4 linked regions of the Homo sapiens genome follow. The protein of the gene in region 1 purifies or fractionates together with the protein of each later gene. This does not show direct contact. Each region holds a gene or a part of one and is shown in the gene's direction. Other genes may lie near its edges.

Region 1 (5,078 bases):
TGAAACTCTGTCTCTACTGAAAATACAAAATTAACCAGGTGTAGTGGCACACACCTATAATCCCAGCTACTTGGGAGGCTGAGGCAGGAGAATTGCTTCAATCTGGGAGGCGGAGATTGCAGTGAGCTGAGATGGCACCATTCTACTACAGCCTGGGCAACAAGAGCGAAACTTCATCTCAAAAAAAAAAAAAAAAAAAAAAAAACCAACCAAACCAAACCAAACAAAAAAAATTAGCTAGGGCACAGTGGCATGCACCTGTGGTCCCTGCTACTTGGGAAGCTGAGGTGGGAGAATCCGTTGAGCCTGGGAGGTCAAGGCTGCAGTGAGCCAAGATTGTGCCACTGCACTCCAGCCTGGGTGACAGAGTGAGACCCTGCCTTAAAAAAAAGAAAAAAAATTCTTTTCTTAAAAAAAAAAAATAGAGATAGGGTCTTACTCTGTTGCTTAGGCTGGTCTTGAACTCCTGGTTTCAAGCAACCATCCCACCTCAGCCTCCAGAGTACCTGGGATTATAGGCACCCACCACCATGCCAGGCAGAATTCTCCTTTTTTTTGTTTCCCCTCTCCCCATCAAATTTGGATGAGCCAACAAAGAGGTTCGGGTGAGCCTCTTTCTCCTACTTGACCTGAGGACTGTGGGGAAGCGATCCCAGGAGAATGAGCTGGTCTGAGCATGGGTAGCCTGGAGAAAATCCACAGGGATCCTCCTCTGACACAGACTGGGCATGGGCGGTGTCTGGTGACAGTGATTTCCAGGCATTTCTGCAGGCTCTGTTCCTGGAATAACTTTCCATTCTGTGCAGTGGGCACTTCACCGGACTGGGCTAGAGAAAGTTGAGGTCCTCACTTTCTGGCATCTTCAGTCCAGTTCCTGAGAGGAGGAGCTGGGTGCTTGCATTCTGGCCTCCCTAGGACCTCCCCACTTGTGCCCCTCCTTGGGGCCCCCCAGAAACCTGAGGATAGAGTGCATTGCCTCAGTAAGCATGGAGGGGCGGGCAGGTTTTGGAGATTTCTCAGGGGAATCTTTAAGATCCAGGACTGGCTCCTGAAGATTCCTGATCTAATGAATAAGATCAGGCAGAAACAATTCCATATTTTTATGGGAATTTACAAGAGTTTTTTGTTTTGTTTTGTTTTGTTTTTTGAAATGGAGTCTCACTCTGTCACCCAGGCTGAAGTGCAGTGGCACGATCTCAGCTTGCTGCAACCTCCACCTCCTGGGTTCAAGAGATTCTCCTGCCTCAGCCACCCAAGTAGCTGGGATTACAGGCGTGCACCTCCACACCTGGCTAATTTTTGTATTTTTAGTAGAGACGGGGTTTCACCATGTTGGTCAGGCTGGCCTCGAACTTCTGACCTCAAGTGATCCGCCTGCCTCGGCCTCCCAAATTGCTGGGATTACAGGTGTGAGCCACTGCACCTGAGTTTTGGCTGCTCTGTCTTAGGGGAGTAGCCCAGTGACTGCACCCCATCCCCAACCTGCCTATGACCGTGTTGCCAAGTCATTTGGGAGGGGGAAATGACCCACATTTATCCTGCACAAAACTCCTCCTGGGAAGTTTTTGTCTTAATCTTTTTTAGTTTTTGTTTGTTTGTTTGTTTTTTTGAGACAGAGTCTTGCCCCGTCACCCAGGCTGGAGTGCAGTGGCACGATCTCGACTCACTGCAACCTCCGCCTCCCGGGTTCAAGCGATTCTCCTGCCTCAACTTCCTGAGTAGCTGGGATTACAGACATGTGCCAGCACGCCTGGCTAATTTTTGTATTTTTAGTGAAGATGGGGTTTCACCATTTGGTCAGGCTGCTCTCGAACTCCTGACCTCAAGTGATCCACCCACCTCAGCCCCAAAGTGCTGGGATTATAGGCGTGAGCCACTGCACCCAGCTGGTATTATTAGCTCCATTTTATATATGAGAAATCTGAGGCCCAAGAGGTTAAGGGACATGTCTAAGATCACACAATAGGAAGTGGGGGAGACAAAAAAAGAAAATCAGCTTCGGCCACATGTGGTGGCTCACACCTGTAATCCCAGCACTTTGGGAGGTTGAAGTGGATGGATCACTTGAGCCCAGGGGTTCGATACCAGCATGGGCAACATAGTGAAACCCCATCTCTACAAAAAAATACAAAAATTAGCTAGGTGTGGTGGTGTGTGCCTATAGTCTCAGCTACTTGGGAGGCTAAGGTGGGAGGATCACCTGAGCCCAAGAAATTGAGGCAGCAGTGAGCTGAGATTGCACCACTGCACTCCAGCCTGGGCAGCAGAGTGAGACCCTGTCTCAAACAAAAAGAAAAAACAGCTTTATTGAGATATAATTCACTCACTATACAATGTACCCATTAAAAGTATGCAATTCAATGGTTTTTAGTATATTCACAGTCGGACAACCAGCATTACAATCAATTTTAGAACATTTTCATCACTTCTAAGGGAAACCTTACACCATTTAGCTTTCACTCCCTAGCCTTCCCTCCCCCTAGCCCTAAGTAACCACTCGTTTACTTTCTGTATCTATAGATTTCCCTGTTCTGGACATTTCATATGAATGAGTCATATAACATTTGTCCTTTTGTGTCTGCCTTCTTTCACTTAGCATAGTGTTTTCAAAATTAATCCATGTTGTAGCGTATATCAGAACTTAATTCCTTTATATGGTGAAATAATATTCCATTATATGGCATGTCAGATTTTAATTCTGCTCTTTTCACCTTACTCTCCTGTTTCCCAGCGATGTTAAAGTACCTCTTGCATACATTCGGCATTAAATGAATGTTTGCTCACTGAGTGACAGAAACCTCAAATTATCCAGGCTGCTTGGGGTACGGGAAGTCTTGCTTTTCTCCCTCTTCTCCCTGTCTTTCCCTGTCTTTTTTTTTTTTTTTTTTTTTTTTTTTTGAGATGGAGTCTTGCTCAGTCACCCAGGCTGGAGTGTAGTGGTGTGATCTTGGCTCACTGCAACCTTCGCCTCCCGGGTTCAAGCGATTCTCCTGCCTCAGCCTCCTGAGTAGCTGGGATTACAGACACCCACCATCACGCCCAGCTAATTTTTGTAATTTTCTAGAGACGGGGTTTCTCCATGTTGGCCAGGCTGGTCTCAAATTCCTGACCTCAGGTGATCTTCCTGCCTCGGCCTCCCAGAGTGCTGAGATTACAGGTGTGAGCCACCGCTCCCGGCCTTTCCCTGTCTTCTTCTTCTCCATTTCCTCTCCAAGAAGGACAGGGAAAGGGGTGGGCAGAGATGATGCAGGGTTGGAAAACATGGATGGATTAGGTTCGGATTCCAGTGCTTCTGTGCCAACGTCTCAGATAATAACGAGGTGGCCCCACAGAAACTAGAAACACCATTCCGGGCTCTGCGGCGCCTGTGGTAAATGGGGCTGTCACTGGGCTTCAACCTCCCACATCTCCCTCCCCTGGCCTGGTGGTCCTGGGTGGGCCAGGAAGAGGGGGACACACTTCCTGCTACACTTGGAGGAGGCTCTCAGAGGGAGGAGCCAAGTCCAGGAATGCTGTCTCCCTCACTGACTCTGTCTTTTCAGAGCAAGGTATCAGTGAAAGAGATTTGTAGTTCTTTCTCTTTTTTTTTTTTTGAGATGGAGTTTCACTCTGTCGTCCAGGCTGGAGTGCAGTGGCACCATGTCGGCTCACTGCAACCTCTGTCTCCAGGGTTCAAGCAATTCTCCTGCCTCAGCCTCCCAAGTAGCTGGGATTACAGGTGCCCACCATCATACCTGGCTAATTTTTATATTTTTAGTAGAGACAGGGTTTCACCATGTTGGCCAGGCTGGTCTCGAACTCCTGACCTCAGGTGATCCACCCACCTTGGCCTCCCAAAGTGCTGGGATTACAGGCATGAGCCACTGTGCCAGGCCTGTAGTTCTCAACTGATGCTCTTTTATCTTATTTTATTGCATTTCCGACTTCTATTATAGAAAAAACTCAAGCTTTCACAAAATTAGAGAGTTCATTATAATTAATTCTCATGTAGCCATCACCTAGCCAGGTGTGGTGGCAACACACCTGTAACTCCAGCTACTTGGAGGCTGAGGTGGGAGGATCACTTGAGCACAAGGTCTCTAAAAAAAAAAGGAAAAAACAGGCTGGGCACAGTGGCTCATGCCTGTAATCCCAGCACTTTGGGAAGCTGAGGCGGGTGGATCACCTGAGGTCAGGAGTTCAAGACCAGCCTGGCCAACATGGTGAAACCCCGTCCCTATCACCTAGCCATCACCTAGGAACAAATATCAATATTTTGCCTGTTTCATCTATACTACCCTCCCCCAAACACATTTTCCCCTTCTGAATATCCTAAAGCAAATCCTGGACATACTTTCCTTTTACCTGTAAATACTTTAATAGGCATCTCCAACAGATAAAGAGGCTTTAGTTGTTTTTTGCCCTTTTGTTTCTGCTGAACATAAGCACAAGACCAGTCATAGTCAACAGATTTAATGGCAATATCAATCAATACCCAGTCTATGTTCAGTTTTCCCTGATAGTCTCGGAATGCTTTTTACAGTTGGTCAATTCAGGATCCAAACCAAGTCCATGCTTTGCATTTGGTTGTTTGGTTTCCTGTCTGTTTTACTAGAAAACTGTCCCCTTTTTCATACCATATGTGTGAGAGAAACTGGGCCACGTGTCCTGCAGAATCCCCCATAGTTTGGAGTTGGGCAATTGCAGCCAAATGGTGTTGTCTAACTTGTTCTTCTGTCCCCTGTATTTCCTCATAAACCAGTAGTCTGGGTCGAGGTATGGTTGGATCAGGCTCAGTTGTGGCAAGAACATTTCCTACAGTGCCGCTCTGTGTATCTTACCGTAGCACATGAGGAAGGACATGAGGTCTTCAGTCAGTTTACAACACTTCTTTTAAAGGTTGCAGGATGAGCAGAGCTGCAGTGTCTTGGGGTGAGAGGTAGAACATGCGGGAGCTCAGACATTTTGGAACCAGGAACTACCAGCCAGGAAGGCCCAGCCTGGGGTCCCCAGTCTGAGGGAGAAGCTGGCACCAAGCTCTTGCTCTTCACCATTCTTCCCAGGGAACCCACAGACTACAGGTACCTGCTTGCTCTTCT
Region 2 (5,509 bases), on another chromosome or scaffold:
GCTTCCTATGTAGCTAGGATTACAGGTGTGTGCCACCATGCCTGGCTAATTTTAAAATTTTTCATAGAGATGGCATCTTGCTTTGTTGCCCAGGTTGATCTTGAACTCTTGGGCTCAAGTGATCCTCCCACCTCAGCCTCCCAAGTAGGTAGGACTACAGACATGCACCACTACACCTGGCTAATTGATTTACTTAGAGATGGGGGTCTCACCATATTGCCAAAGCTGGTCTCAAACCCCTAGCCTCAAGTGATCCATCCTCCTACCTCAGTCTCCCCCAAGTAGCTGGGATTCCAGGCACATGCCACCACCCCTGGCAGCTTTAGAGTTTTCTTCATTTGGAGCTTACATATCTGGTTTGGTTTATTCCAGTTTTTAATAATTGTTGCTGTGATTGCGATCTTTTCTCCTACTACATTTTCTAAGTGGTTATTGAGGATACACAGAAAAGCTATTGATTTCTGTACGTTATCTTTTATTCAGCAATCTTGCTGAACTCATTGGTTTTCAATTATTTTGCCAACTGATGATCTTGCATTTTCTAGATAAACCTGCAAATAATGAGTTTTCCCCCAATACTTTCATCCCATTTCTTCTATCAGGCCTTGTTGCAGTGTCTCTTATAGAATATTCAATCATTGTGGTGGTAGTGAGGATTATTTTGTTCCATTCACTTAAAAGAGAATGTTTCTAATGTTTCATCATTAAGTATGGTTTCACCATTAAGTATGATAATAAAGGTTTCTGGGAGATACCCTTAATGGAATTGAGGACGTTTCCTTCCATTTCTTGTTTGCTTCTAAGATCTTTGTTTCTTGTAACAGAAAAACAAAACAAAACACAACAAAAAACCAAAGGGATGCTCCTTTCATCCTCAGAGGAGGAAAGAAGAGGGAAGCTGGGTCTAGACACACCCTGGATTTCTCTTTTCCAAGCCCAGCTGACAGCCACTTTTCTAGTACCCCTAACACCCACCAAATAAAAGGTGCTACATTTTGCTCATGTTCTTTCTTTTGTCTGGAACCCATTTCTTCCCTATGCTCCTCCACCCCAACTCCTATTTCTCCTAAGTATTAATATTTAGTCTGGAAGAGTCCCGTGAGATTATCTCCAATGTCTGATGCTATACCCCTGCATAGGGGGGTGGGGATATACTTTGAAAAAGCATATTCAAATAACGATTTGTTATTTTAAAGAAGTGTTTTCCTAATATGGTATATATAAAGTAACATTCCACAAAATTGTGGTTGCTGTATATTTAAGCTGCAGTACTTCTAAAAGGGTAGTCGGGGTTTTTCTCTCCCTAAAAGAGGCTGAGCTTCTTTCTAACTCAGGAACTCTATCAGTGAGCTTTTCCCTCTGCCTTGTAAGTTCTCTCCCAAACCCAATCTCCTACCTAATACCCACTCATCCTTCCAGATGCCAGCCAGCTTACCTTAAATGCTGTTTCTTCAGGAAGGCAAGCATAAGGTTCCCCTCTGTGCTGTCTCCTAGCCCCTTATACTCCTTAACAGACCGACTACCAATTGCAATCATAGGACCATATGTGTGTCCATTTTGTTTTTCAGTCTGTTTTCTCTACGAGCCTAAACTATGAGGACGAGGGATGTGCCTGTTTTATTTACCACTACAGTGCTTGGCATATTAAGGATCTTCAGTTGCCAAAAGGGAGCACATGTTAGAGAAGTCAGCACCTCTCTCATAATCTAAAACCCCCCAGTTAGCAAATGGGGCAAGTGGGGCCCAGAGGTGAGAAGAGATTTACTCAAGGTCTCGGAACCAATCTGATCCTGAGCCAGACTGCCTAGCTCTAAAGTCCAGTTCTTTGCTCTCAGGTTCTCCTTCAGGGCTCACCCAATCTAAGTACCCTGAGAAGTCTTTCCTTACCCCAGGCCTCTGTCCACCCTCACAGTCATTTCCACGCGTCGTCCTCGTCCCATCAGTCCCATCTGCCACAGCTGCCCACTCTGCTTCCCAGGGAACGGGTGACCGCGCGGGGAGAGAGCGGCATCCGGGCGCGAGGTGCGAGGCCCAGGTCTGCGGGCGGCCGGGCCAAGCCCCCGAGCCTCGGCGGTGCTGATTGGCCGGCCTGGCGGGGGGGACGGGCGGAGGGACGGCCGCCCGCGCGTCCGCTTCGTCTCCGCGGGGGCGCGCCCGCGGCACGCGGCCGGGCGGGGCCGGGCGTGAGTGACGGCCATGCGGACCAATGGGGCGGGCGCGCGCCGCCGCCGCCGCCCGCGCGGCCCCTGACGCGGGCCCGGGCGCCGCGCCGCTGCGGCTGCAGGCGGCGACGGCTACACCATGGGCCGGCTGCTGCGGGCCGCCCGGCTGCCGCCGCTGCTTTCGCCGCTGCTGCTTCTGCTGGTTGGGGGTGAGTGCGCTCCGGGCCCGAGCGCGGGAGGGCGGGCGGCGGCGTGGGCGCGGTGCTGGACAGCTCCCCGGGCCGCCAACAAAGGGGCCAGAGTGCGGCGCCGCCGGGAGCGCGCGTGTCCCGGCCGGGCCGCGGCGCCGCCCCGACACACGCGCACGAGGAGTGGGTGCGTGGGGGCCGCGGCGGGCGCCTGGCGTGCCGGGCGACCCCCGACAAAGGCGCGGCGGTGAAGCTGGGACACAGCACCGTGGCCCCCACGCCGCGGCTCTCAGGGGCAGGTGCGCAGGCTGCTGCCTCGCGGGCCGGGGGGGCGCGCACGTGTGGGTGTGCATGTGTGTGCGTGTGCTTGTGTGTGTGCGAGTGCATTGTGTGCCTGCGCACTCGGGGGAAGAGGCGTGTGTGACAGCCACGCGGGGAGGAGGCCGCATTGTGAAGGTCCCAGGGGCCGCCTGCGGAGTGTGGGGCGGGTACGCTGAGGCGCGGGTGGCTGTTTACGCGTGGCGTTGCCGGGAGGGAGTGTGAGTGTGTCACGGTGAATGGGTATTCTCTCCTGTTCTGGGCGACTCTATTAGGAGCTGACAAAAACGGGCGTACAGCCACGGAAGGCCCGTGACAGCACACGGCGGGAGGCTCCCACGCAGCTCACACACGAGGGAGGTGTGAGACTCAGATGTGTGGTTTCCATTCAGCAGCCACGCCGGGCGGCGGGCTGTGTGGGTGCGTGGCGGGCTGGGGGTGTGGCACAGGTGTGAAAGGGATGTGTCTGCCTGAGAGAGAAAGAGACGGGCCTCCTGATGGCTTCCAGCGCAGACGGGGATTTAGTGGAGGGGGTGTGTAGGGAGGTGGGCATGGGGTGTGACAGCCCATGAGGCAGGCGGCCACTATGGAAATGGCGGGGAGAAGGGCTGTCTGCAAAGGTGGGTCAAATAAGGTCATAGCTGAGCAGCTCCTGCACACACTGGCAGAGCAGAGGGAGTGTGTTACGGTGTATGTTAAGGTGTGACTGGTGCTGCTGGAGGAATACCCGGATGAGGAAGTGTGCATGTGTGCCTGTGCACACTCATCAGCCAGCTGTAACTTCACTTCTGATGCACACGTCAAAATAGCGTCCTAGTATGATGTGTGTATGTGCATGTAGGAGTGTGTATGTGCATGTAGGAGTGTGCACAGGACATTTCCCACGCAGCTGGCCCATGAAGACACAGGCACTTTGTGTCCAGATGTGTGTGAGTGAAAGAGAAACTAGTGAAGGGTCTCTATGGGAAGGGAGGAACAGTCTTTGCCTGAGGTGGGCCATGAACCTGGGACTCAGAGTGGCAGAATCCCAGGGTAAATGGCTGGGAGGGGAAAGTGGTCCCTCGCACATTCCTGTGCATGTCATGGGAAGGCTCAGTTCAGGGAGGGTACATTTTCTCCACAGTCAGTCTAGGGATGAAGAAAGGCCCTAGGTGGTGTGCACAGAAAAACATGTCCATCAGTGTTGGCTCAGACACTCACACAAACCCACCTGTATTCTTTCACGCCGTAAATCCTCTTTGGAAAAAGGCGACATTCAATAAATAAACATCAATTGATTGGTCTGCTATTTCTTTGTGTGACAGTCATAAACCAGAACTGGCCAGCAACGTCCTCATGGACCCAGGCCCAGCTGTAACTGCCCATGTGCTTATGTGACCAGCTGTGAGGACTGCAGGCAGCCTGCCTCCCGGCTCCTCTCTCCCGTGCATGCTCTTCATGACGCACTTCTTACCCCCTGCTTGGAGGGCATGTGCGTGTGTCTAGCAGTGTGTCTCTTTCTTACACACCTTTGTGTGGAAGCCCTTCAGGGACCTGTCAGCATTGTTTCTCAGGTGCTTACAGAGTGGAGGTAGCGTGACTGTGCTCAGCAGTTCCTGTTGTCGCTGACACTTAAGGGTGAGGAGCTGTGTGACAGATGCTGCAGGGCCCCTCCCATGTTGGTGTCTGCCAAGAGCTTAGGGAGACTGGACTTCAAAGACCCTGCTTAGGGGAGAGGTGGGGTGTAGCTGATGGTGGAAATCAGAAAGGAGTTTTGCACCGGGAGCAGATCACAGGGACTGATTTGAAAAGGTAAGATAAAACATGAGGATCGCTGGGGTCTTGTTTTTTTCACCTCCCCAAATGTCAGCCTGCTTCCTTTGCCTCCTTCTGTGTTTGTTTGGGTCAGATTTTCATTTCTTTGAGGCTGATCCCCTAATCCTTTTCATGTGCCATCTTTTTCTCTCTCCTCTGTTGGGTGTGATGATGTAACAGAAAATTATAGGTGCTAGAGGGAAAAAGGAAATCAATCACACGCAGAGTGTAATTCTGAAATTTTAAGTCAGGTGGGGTCTCAATTAAGGCAGATTAATTATTAAGTGCAAAACTAATTATACACAGAATGGCTATGTCTCAGCTACTATTTTGGTGTCATCTTATGGTGGGCAAGTTTGAAAATAAGTAACCTCTTGTAATTACTTAAATAAATACCCATTGCCAAGGCCTTTGAAAATATCAAGTTCTATGTAAAGACAAAACAGTCATTAGAGGGAAAAATAACTTTAAGAAAATGAAACTGTTTACTGGAAAAGGAATGAAAAACCGGGAAAATACCAGATTCCTTTTTCTTCAGTAGGGTTTTCAAAATCTTTGCCAATTCCTATTAGACCATTGGGAAGGGAAGACAAAGAAGGAAAGGGAGAGATGTTAGAGGAAGGTTATGGGTTCCTGGCTTGACAGGTGGGAGAGCTCAGAGAGGTGGGGGCTCACTGGAGCCATGGAAATGACAGGGAAGGGGCCTAGCAAACACACCAGACCACAGTACTGTGCACAGACAGCTGGACTGACTAGAAAGTGTTTTATCCCCCAGAGTGGGGAAGGAAACAGGCTCCTCTGGGCACAATGACCTGGAGAGGGCAGAGCAGTCTTCTTGAGTTCCAAGCCATTCCGAGGAGCCAGAGTAGGGTGTAGACGGCAGCAGCCTCCCCGCCTGCCATGCCACAGCCTCTCCCTGCCATGCCACAGTTCAGCTCCGAGAGAGAGTGCCAAGGTTTGAGAGACAACCCGTGTTTAATCCTTCAGTGGTTTTGTAGAGAGTGAATTTCAAAATTCTTAGGGAGAATCAGTTTACACTTTTCTAAC
Region 3 (5,078 bases), on another chromosome or scaffold:
GGAAGTGGATTGGAACAGAAATTTCAAGCCAAGCCGAGCTATCTATTCTGAGACCCAACCAATACTCTCAGAGCCAGAAGGATTTCAAATCCCAAGAAGTCTCACCTGACCCTATTTGCCAGCTCTTCCCAGAGATACCCTTCCTCTCCCTGCACCTAAGCCAGGCATGTAGTAGGGGCGTCTGGGGGAGTTGGGAATGGCTTCTGATTTGCCATCTGCCCATTTAAGCTTGTGTTCCGAGATCACTGTCTCCTGGGAATTTAGAGCAGGAAGCCAGGCCAGTGAGGGAACAATCAGCATCTTAGTGCTCAGCCCCTGGTATAAGCAAATGTGGGCTGGCACCTGTTAGGGCCAGGAACAGACTTAGTAATTGATAGCTATTGGAGAAATGAGTGAGTAGGTAGGCCCAGGTTGACTGGGCAGCTCTGGGACAGACCCTATTGACCAGTGCCTGGGACCCCGCCTCACTCTCAGCACAGCCTGGCCCACCAGTGCAGGATGTGGATTCCAAGGGACTGATCAAGACTCAGCTCTGCTACAAAGCTCTGCTTTTCCCTCCAACTCATGGACTGTTGTAGGGGCTGAGACTCCCCCGTGGGACTCCTCCTGCCCACGCACCCCTGTCCCAGCCTTAGCTTTGCTGCAGACCATTCTAGATACTGACTGCAGATCCTGCCTCATAAACAGGCAGAAATGTCACTGGGAGAGACAGTGAGGTCAACTAGATATTGGATAGAAAGGGCAGCTAGAGGCTACACAGCAAGGACAGTTAGAGCTGGGACAGAGATCAGCAAGGTGGCATGTGAGCCGGCCAGTGAGATTGGACAGGGAGGTTGGCTGGAGTAAGGCCTTAAGGCCTTTAGGCCAGTGAGAGGAAGACAATTGTCAGTATGGAGAAAGTAGACTCAGTGGAGACCCATCCAGGCCTGCAGTGACCCCTCTGCTTTGGAAGGGAAGCTCTGGCCACTCTGCCCTGCCACTAGAGCTGATGCTGCATGAAGCCACATAGACCCCAGGACCCTGCTTAGTGGCTGGAGAACTTCAGTGTTCATCGTGACTGTGCTTTCCAGCAGATGGGCTGGATGTGATTCTCTGAGGACACCTTCAACTCACGCATTTTTTTTTCTTTTTTCTTTTTTTTGAGACAGAGCTTTGTTGTTGTTGCCCAGGCTGGAGTGCAATGGCGTGATCTTGGCTCACTGCAACCTCTGCCTCCTGGGTTCAAGTGATTCTCCTGCCTCAGCCTCCCATGTAGCTGGGATTACAGGTGCCTGCCACCACACCCGGCTAATTTTTTTGTATTTTTGGTAGAGACGGGGTTTCACCACATTGGCCAGGCTGTTCTCAAACTCCTGACCTCAGGTGATCTAGGTGATCCACCCATCTCAGCCTCCCAAAGTGCTGGGATTACAGGTGTGAGCCACCATGCCCAGCCAACTCATGCATATTCTGTAGGCCAACTCCCCTAAGCCTAGGTCTGTCTGTGGTGGCAGGGAGGGTTTAGAGAGAAATGGAGGTTGGGCCTTCCCCCATCCAGTAGGCTGGTAGGGGATTTGGGTGCATGTGTCCCCGATCTCCTTGCCACAGACCAGATATGGAAGGCTATGACCTGTGGAACCAACTTTTCTAGGTCATTCTGAAGTGTCCTGTCTCCTCTGTCTCCTGCTTCTGCTCCCTGGACAGTTCCATGACCTCTCACAGAGACATGCCTGGCACCTTGGCTTCATGAAGATACTGTGTGGCCCAAACGAATACCAGTTTCCTTTAGCCCCAGAGGCTGACAAGACATATCTCCCTTGGATTTCAGGAGATCTGTGGAGCATCCACCAACCCACCTGTTGGTTCAAAATCAACTCCAAAGTGGTTTTGTCCTAGATGTCCTCTCAGGCTCAACGGCCACATGTGTGCTTGAGATCTTGCTGTGCTATTTCTCCTGGTAGTGGGAGTCTGAGTGGCATCCATGCTCCACAGGGCACAAGGTCTGTGCTGTGGTTAATAGGCAGCTCCTGGTGACCATGGGGTGTCAGAGAAGCAGTGTTCTGGCTGCTGAAAGTCAGCCAAAAAAAAAAAAAAAGGATAGAAGCCTGACCTTGGCATGGAGCCTTGGTTGAAGAAGGAGCCCCAGCCCTGGAAGCTAGTGATCCCGCACATGGGGCTCTGGGCTGCCCTTATCCCCACCTCCCACTCGAGGGCACTTGTGGCAGCAGGAGTGTGGGCACCAGGCAGAGGACACACGTGCCCTCCATTATTGAAAGTCCTCTCTGTGCACTGCAGGGTCTTCTTGTGTACCAGCACTTTTTTCTTCCCATTTCTTTCTCCATGTTTACCATCAACACTGTGAGAATAACTGAAGTTTCCTTATCCAAAAAAAGGGTGCTACTCCAGATTCCGCCACTACTGTTTTCGAAAAGCACAAAACCAACAGAGCCTCAGAGGGGGCTGACCCTCTTTCTGGATCCCACCTCCATCCCCCCGAACTTACGTAGTGCTTTCCTCAGCAGCCACCGAGGCCTCCAGTTCCGTCTCCAAAGATGATGGGTTCCTTCCAGTGGGTGCAAAGTGAGAGCCCCAGTGATTGGTGTTCATAGTGGGTCAGTGTGAACAACGCCCAATGGCCTGCCTGGGCCAGCTGGGGCCTCGTTTTGCTTTGGTCTGAAAGACATTTTTGTTTTCTGGTGAGAACAGCCCCAGCCTGGCCAGGAGCCGGCCAGCGGCAGGAATACAAACCCTTTCATGTGACAGACCCAAGTGGAGTGATGCCCTCCTGCCAGCAGCAGGCCCTCCCCTGCCGCTCCTGGGAGGCGGCCATTTGCATATTTCCCATTCATCCTGGCCTTGAAAAGGAGGCCTGAGTTCCCAGTGCTCCTGCCCGCTGAGGGCTGGGCCGCTCCAGTCTAATGTTAACTCTGTGGACACTGTAGGCTCTCACAGGCCAACAGCAGAACTTGACCGCTTGCTGCCGGAGGGAGAGCAGCTTAAGGCTGCAGCTGCTGTGCCGCCTGACCTCCAGAGGGGGGATTCAGGAGGTGGCAGATTCCCGTTGACCAGCACAGCCTTTTGCTAAACTGGAGGAAATTCAGATTTGTTTCTTCTTGAGGCATTCAGAAGAGGAATTTTGTCAGACTATGGGGATGCCAGAATATTCAGCTATTTACCAAATTTGCCAGAAAATGTGCCCTTAACCAAGGGCAAAACTCTTTTTGTCTTGCTCACTTTCTAGTCTACAAAAAAATTCAGTGACTCTGGAATGGTAGGTGAAGGAGCCATGCCGGATCCTGGCTGCAGCAGCAATCCCTTTGCCAAGGATGTAGGAGCACAGCTTGCCTGGGGCACTTTTGCATCCCCAGGGCTGAGTGCCATTAGCTTGTGGGCTGTGACTCTGAAGGCATGAGGCAGATATACAGTACCCATCACCATCTTTTTCCTTTCTCCCATAGCTAAGTGCCATCCTGCCAGCCTCAGCTTCCTGCCCCAGTCCTCAGTGCAGACAGGCCTCTGCCTCCTTCCCGCCACTGTGTGAGGGCTCCTGCCAGGGGCCCCAACATCTTACAGGCTCTTCCTGTGACTTACCAACCCACTTCTGTCCCTCTTCGATAGCCCTGTTCTCTACCCTTTCCCACCCAGCTCGGATCCTCTCCTTGTTCTCCCTCCCTGGCTAAGGATGTCTCAGGTTCTGTCTTTTGTGCATTTCTCCCCTAGCACGTGTCCCCAGGAGACCAGCAGGGCTCCTAAGTGAACAAGCAGGCAAGCAAATCCCTCTGTTGCTCCCCCCACCTCAGTGACCCCCAACCATATATTGGCAGGACCCTCCCTACTTCAAGGAGCTTCCCTCTAGCTGGAGGAGGTCGCATCCCATCCTGCTTGTACCCCAGCCACCTGCAGTTGAGCTCTGAGTGCATGGCCTCGCCATGAGCAGCCCATATGCCCTTTACTGGTTCAAGCTTAGTTTGCAGTGTGTCCTAAGTTTGAGCCAGTGGCAGAAATGAATCATTGCTCCTGAGGCCGGGACACCAGCAGTCCTAACGTGGACATGGCCGGAAAGGCAAAGGATCGTGTTACAGCCACAGGATTTGGCTTCCTGCACAGGAGGGCCTGGCCAGGGAGTGTCCCTGTGCCTGTGAGGTGATGGTGACCCTGGTCAGTATTCCTAGGGTCCTGCCTGCTGTCCCAGGGCTTGGCGTGGAAGGATCTGAACTCGTCCACACCATCAGTCCTGGTTATCATACCCTGTAAATATTTCCAAAGGGACTACTGCTGTTTTTTTAGCCCCTGCTGTCCCTCTTTGCTCTGAGAACTTTGTCCTGCCTAATTCATGGTGAGGGCAACGTTTATCTCAGAGCGTGTGAAAGACACTGTGTATCTGTTTGCTCCTCTGTTCTCAAGGCTATTCATATTTTAAAGTTCCTGAAAGCATTGTTTGTGCCTGGCTTCCTGGTGCTAGCATCAGGAATGTGGACCCACATTCCCTGAGCAGGGCTTAGGGTGAGTGAGATTTTTGAGAGGTACTGTCATGAGGATGGGGAGGCCAGCGGGCAGTGGAGGCTGCTAAAGGGAGGCATGCTCACAGTGAGCTTGGGCTAGTTGCAACAGGTGGCTCTGTAAAGTACTCAGTCACAGCCAGCCTTAGCTGGGCCTTTCTACATTCAAGGGGCTTAATTGAACCATCAGAGCTATGATCAGGCTCCTTGGGGAAGCTTGGCAGGTGAGCCACCATGTAACCTGGCAACCCCGTATCGTATCCTGGGCCTCTATCTCATGGGGGATGTACAGTGGGTCCCACCTGGCAATTCCCAAGTCAGGGAGGCTCTTTGCTCCATTTCTGCCCTGGTCTTATGTGGTTCTGTGAATCTAATTAAAACCCAAGAGGAAAATGGAGAGCAAACCCTTCTCTCACAGCAGAGAGAAGCTTGAATCCCTGTGTGGAGAGGGCAGGTGTTGGGCAAGTGTGCGCTGCTGTGTTTGCACCTCTGCAGGTCAGGGTTGTACATGTGTGATGGTGAAGGCTGTGCATTTCTCAACCTGGCAACTGGGCTGCACACTGCTTGGGGTGAAACTACTCCCTCAGCTCTATGCCTCTG
Region 4 (4,211 bases), on another chromosome or scaffold:
GGGGGGCCACGGCCGATGCAGCCCGTACCCGGGAGTTCCTGGAAGGCTTCGTGGATGACTTGCTGGAAGCCCTGAGGAGCCTCTGCAACCGGGACACCGACATGGAGGTGGAGGACTTCATTGGCGTGGACAGCATGTACGAGAACTGGCAGGTGGACAGGCCACTGCTGTGCCACCTTTTCGTGCCCTTCACACCCCCCGAGCCCTACCGCTTCCACCCAGAGCTCTGGTGCTCCGGCCGCTCAGTGCCCCTGGATCGCCAGGGCTACGGCCAGATCAAGGTGGTCCGCGCCGATGGGGACACATTGAGCTGCATCTGCGGCAAGACCAAGCTCGGGGAAGACATGCTGTGTCTCCTGCACGGCAGGAACAGCATGGCGCCTCCCTGCGGCGACATGGAGAACCTGCTGTGTGCCACAGATTCCCTGTACCTGGACACGATGCAGGTCATGAAGTGGTTCCAGACGGCCCTCACCAGAGCCTGGAAGGGCATCGCCCACAAGTACGAGTTCGACCTGGCCTTTGGCCAGCTGGACAGCCCGGGGTCCCTGAAGATCAAGTTCCGTTCAGGGAAGTTCATGCCCTTCAACCTGATTCCTGTGATCCAGTGTGATGACTCGGACCTGTACTTTGTCTCCCACCTTCCCAGGGAGCCCTCTGAGGGCACCCCAGCCTCCAGCACAGACTGGCTCCTGTCCTTTGCTGTCTATGAGCGACACTTCCTCAGGACGACACTAAAGGCACTGCCCGAGGGCGCCTGCCACCTCAGCTGCCTGCAGATAGCATCCTTCCTGCTCTCCAAGCAGAGCCGCCTGACCGGTCCCAGCGGGCTCAGCAGCTACCACCTGAAGACGGCCCTACTGCACCTCCTACTCCTCCGGCAGGCCGCCGACTGGAAGGCGGGGCAGCTGGACGCTCGTCTGCACGAGTTGCTGTGCTTCCTGGAGAAGAGCTTGCTCCAGAAGAAGCTCCACCACTTCTTCATCGGCAACCGCAAGGTGCCTGAGGCCATGGGACTCCCTGAGGCCGTGCTCAGGGCCGAGCCCCTCAACCTCTTCCGGCCCTTCGTCCTGCAGCGAAGCCTTTACCGTAAGACACTGGACTCCTTCTATGAGATGCTCAAGAATGCCCCAGCGCTCATTAGCGAGTATTCCCTACATGTCCCCTCAGACCAGCCTACCCCAAAAAGCTGACGTCTTTTACAGAATGTGGGATCCTCGAGCTAAGATGAGGGCATCCCTCACGTTCACACCCCTGGTGGCATCTGCCAGCCCTGTTCTGGGGACAAGGCGGGCTTTCGTGGGAGCCGTGCTCAGCCTGCCAGGAAGCCAAGCCCTACAGTGCAGAGGAAACAGAATTTCAACGGGAAGCTGGTTTGCTTCATACCATTGGGATCTGCTGGTAAAGCTGTTATTTGGGTTTAGGGACTGATCCCTTGCAGTTTACTTCTGGATCACCATGAATGGCCAAGATGGTGGCAGAACACGCTGTGGACCCTGAGTTAGAGACAATGCAAATGTTGGATTGGGTGTAATTCTTTTTGAATCCCAGATCCAGTCTGTACTTGAATATGAGCAGAGGATCTACAAGAATGCTGACAGGGAACCGTGTTAAGACCCAGCACCCCTATTCCCAGGAGCTTCTGGCCTGACCATCTGCAGCCAAAGCACTAACAGGGACAGATATGGGAATGTCCACCTTTGATCCGCATCCTGCACAATAGTGGTCCCACCATGGCTGCCACTTTTTTATACTATTTGGAGAAAAGACCTTGTATAAATTCGAGGCCCAAATGACTAACGTCTCTGTCACACGGAAATGGGTACTTGGTGGCATAGAGAAACACAATTAGCCACTTTTTCAGCTACACTTCTCACTCAGCTGCACCCTACACTTCTCACTCAGGTGCACCCCCTTCTGCTGTCCTTTCCCCAACGTACTGGGTCCCGAGCGTGGTGGGTATTTGCCACACTGGGTGCCAGCTCAGCAGCCCCCCACCTCTCTTTATTCTCTCCAAAGCTGGTCTTTCTGACTATCATTGTGGTAGGGGGAGGACAGATGCTAAAGGTGGAAGCTGACCTGGAGAAAGAGACACACGGGGTGACTGTGGCAAAGGACAGCTGGAAAAGAAACTCTATCACTTCTTCATTGGCAACCACAAGGCACCTGAGGCCATGGCACTCCCAGAGGCTGTGCGCAGAGCCAAGCCTCTCAACCTCTTCTGGCCCTGCGTCCTGCAGCGAAGTCTCTGCTGTAAGACAGTAGACTCCTTCGATGAGGTGCTCAAAAATGCTACCCGGGGTGGTGGTGTCTGGCTTGCAGTCTGGCCCAGTTCAGAGAAAGTTGCAGAGATCAGGGGCCAAGGATGTCATAGCCCCAGGTTGTCCTCAGGGTCCCAATCCTAGGGCAGGGTGTGCATGGAAGCAAGAACTATGGAAACCTAGCTCCAGTCTGCAGGCTCTGAGCCCCTAGTTCCTCACTCCAGCGGGGCTCCCTCACTGCACAGAACCCACCCCTTCTGTGTGGGCACTGCTGACCACACAGATGACCCAGACCCAAAGAGCCTGGCAGAAGCTCTGTGGTTGGAGCTGGGCTCCGTCTCCAGGTCTGGTTCAGGGGGATCAGGAAGGCTCTTTTCCACCTGTGGCTTCACTGGCCCTTTGAGATTTCCTATCTCACCGTTACTTCAGTTACCCTTGCAGGGGGCCAGGGAGTCAAGAATATACCGTGTTCCTCCAGGGTTTAAGCCGGCCATGCCTTCCCGAGAGCATAACCAACTTGACAGGGGTGCCCAGTTACCCCACAAACTGAAGGAAGGAGATCCTTCCCCCATCCCCAGGAGTGCTCTCAACCAGCCTCAGAAAGCTTGAGAAGATGGACCCTTTGCCCACCAGGGTTAATTCCTGGTGGGGCAGCTCGGCTGTGATCAGGGCAACCAAACCTATAGGAAGCCTTCCAGTGTGAGCTGGAATTAGACTGAACATGTGCTTGGGCCTGCCTCTCCCTAGACGCAGTTGCGGGGCACTCCAGGGAATGAACCAGCTCAAGTGTGTCCCTAACAGCAGCCTGGAGCTACCCCCAATCCCTCACAGCCTGACCCTCCTCATTCCATCAGATGCATTTGTAGAATCGGGGCAAATTTCCTTATTTATTTATGGCCCATGCCTTTCCCCCTCTTCATCCTGATCCCGTTTTGCTTTGAAGAGACCCCAGTAACCAAAAAACAGCCTCCAGAAGCCAAAACCATGCCTGGATCTCCCATAGCTTCTCCTTTGCTTCCAGGAGAAAGTTCACTGAAAAAAAAATATCTTCTGGCTTCTTGTGTGTACAGAGACAACAGAACTCGGTGGGGAAACGGGAATCTTTTCTGCACCAAAGCTGCTTCTAAAGCAGAAAGCAGTGGGGCTCTTGGTGTTTCATGCTGCCTTATTTATATTAAAGGAAGAATTAAATCTTGCAAGGAGTAGAAATGGTCACTGTTTGTTTTTAACTTCAGGAAATCTGTGAGGCTCCCAGGGCAGAGTTGGGGACAGGGGGGTGGATTTCCTATTGACAAAGCAGAAGCTTTCACTCCCTTTTTATTCTTACACTTTCAGGAGACTTTAAAAAATAACAAAACAGAACATTTCTACCCTGTCTTTGAGGCAACTTGTGTGCTGCCCGCAGGGCTCCAGAAAGGGCCTTTGAAAGCTGGCTGTAGGGTGGATTCCAGCCTAAGACCTTATTTCACAGAGCTAATGTCAGCGAGAAATATAGGAGCTGGAACTAACAGGAAGCTTTTGGGTTTTAAAGAAAGAGATTGTATTTTAAATAGAGGATTTTGAGTCCTCTAGGGGACTTTGGCCTTTCCACTAAGGACAACCCTGCCCTCTTTCCCCAGAGTCTCTTTCCCAAGGATGCTTGACTTTCCCCAGCAACTGCTCACTTGCTTTGCAAAATAACAAGGGTGAAATGAATAGAGTTGGCCCCTAGGCCAAGAGGCTGGTTATGTTGGGGAAGGGCCTTATATCCTCAAAAGCTCTAGCCCCTCTGCATGCCTGGCTGAAGCACAGCCCCCGTTGAGAACCTGGGGGTGGAGCTCTGGTTCATCATCAAGGGTGTCATCCGAATCACCCAGACAACCTGGTCCATTGCCCCGACCCCGCCTTGAACCTACATGGTGCTCAGAATCCAGTCTGGAGTGGTCAGGCTAGGCTCGATTTTTAAAGATT

Evidence for each region. The genes of interacting proteins can lie anywhere in the genome.
Region 2: the proteins of PRPH2 (region 1) and PODXL2 purify together in Homo sapiens (affinity purification with mass spectrometry; one large-scale study listed by BioGRID and IntAct). This does not show direct contact.
Region 3: the proteins of PRPH2 (region 1) and ACSL6 purify together in Homo sapiens (affinity purification with mass spectrometry; one large-scale study listed by BioGRID and IntAct). This does not show direct contact.
Region 4: the proteins of PRPH2 (region 1) and ITPRIP purify together in Homo sapiens (affinity purification with mass spectrometry; one large-scale study listed by BioGRID and IntAct). This does not show direct contact.

Annotation. Positions count from the first base shown.
Region 1 is NC_000006.12:42,711,740-42,716,817, reverse strand, and holds part of PRPH2 (peripherin-2), read left to right. Parts: intron 1-4,878; exon of another isoform or gene 4,879-5,060; intron 5,061-5,078.
Region 2 is NC_000003.12:127,626,919-127,632,427, forward strand, and holds the start of PODXL2 (podocalyxin-like protein 2 precursor), read left to right. Parts: upstream 1-2,266; 5' UTR 2,267-2,301; coding exon 2,302-2,371; intron 2,372-5,509. UniProt on the Homo sapiens protein: Acts as a ligand for vascular selectins. Mediates rapid rolling of leukocytes over vascular surfaces through high affinity divalent cation-dependent interactions with E-, P- and L-selectins.
Region 3 is NC_000005.10:132,001,216-132,006,293, reverse strand, and holds part of ACSL6 (long-chain-fatty-acid--CoA ligase 6), read left to right. Parts: intron 1-1,630; exon of another isoform or gene 1,631-1,960; coding exon of another isoform or gene 1,961-1,979; intron 1,980-2,482; exon of another isoform or gene 2,483-2,721; intron 2,722-5,078. UniProt on the Homo sapiens protein: Catalyzes the conversion of long-chain fatty acids to their active form acyl-CoA for both synthesis of cellular lipids, and degradation via beta-oxidation.
Region 4 is NC_000010.11:104,311,390-104,315,600, reverse strand, and holds part of ITPRIP (inositol 1,4,5-trisphosphate receptor-interacting protein precursor), read left to right. Parts: coding exon 1-1,193; 3' UTR 1,194-4,211. UniProt on the Homo sapiens protein: Enhances Ca(2+)-mediated inhibition of inositol 1,4,5-triphosphate receptor (ITPR) Ca(2+) release.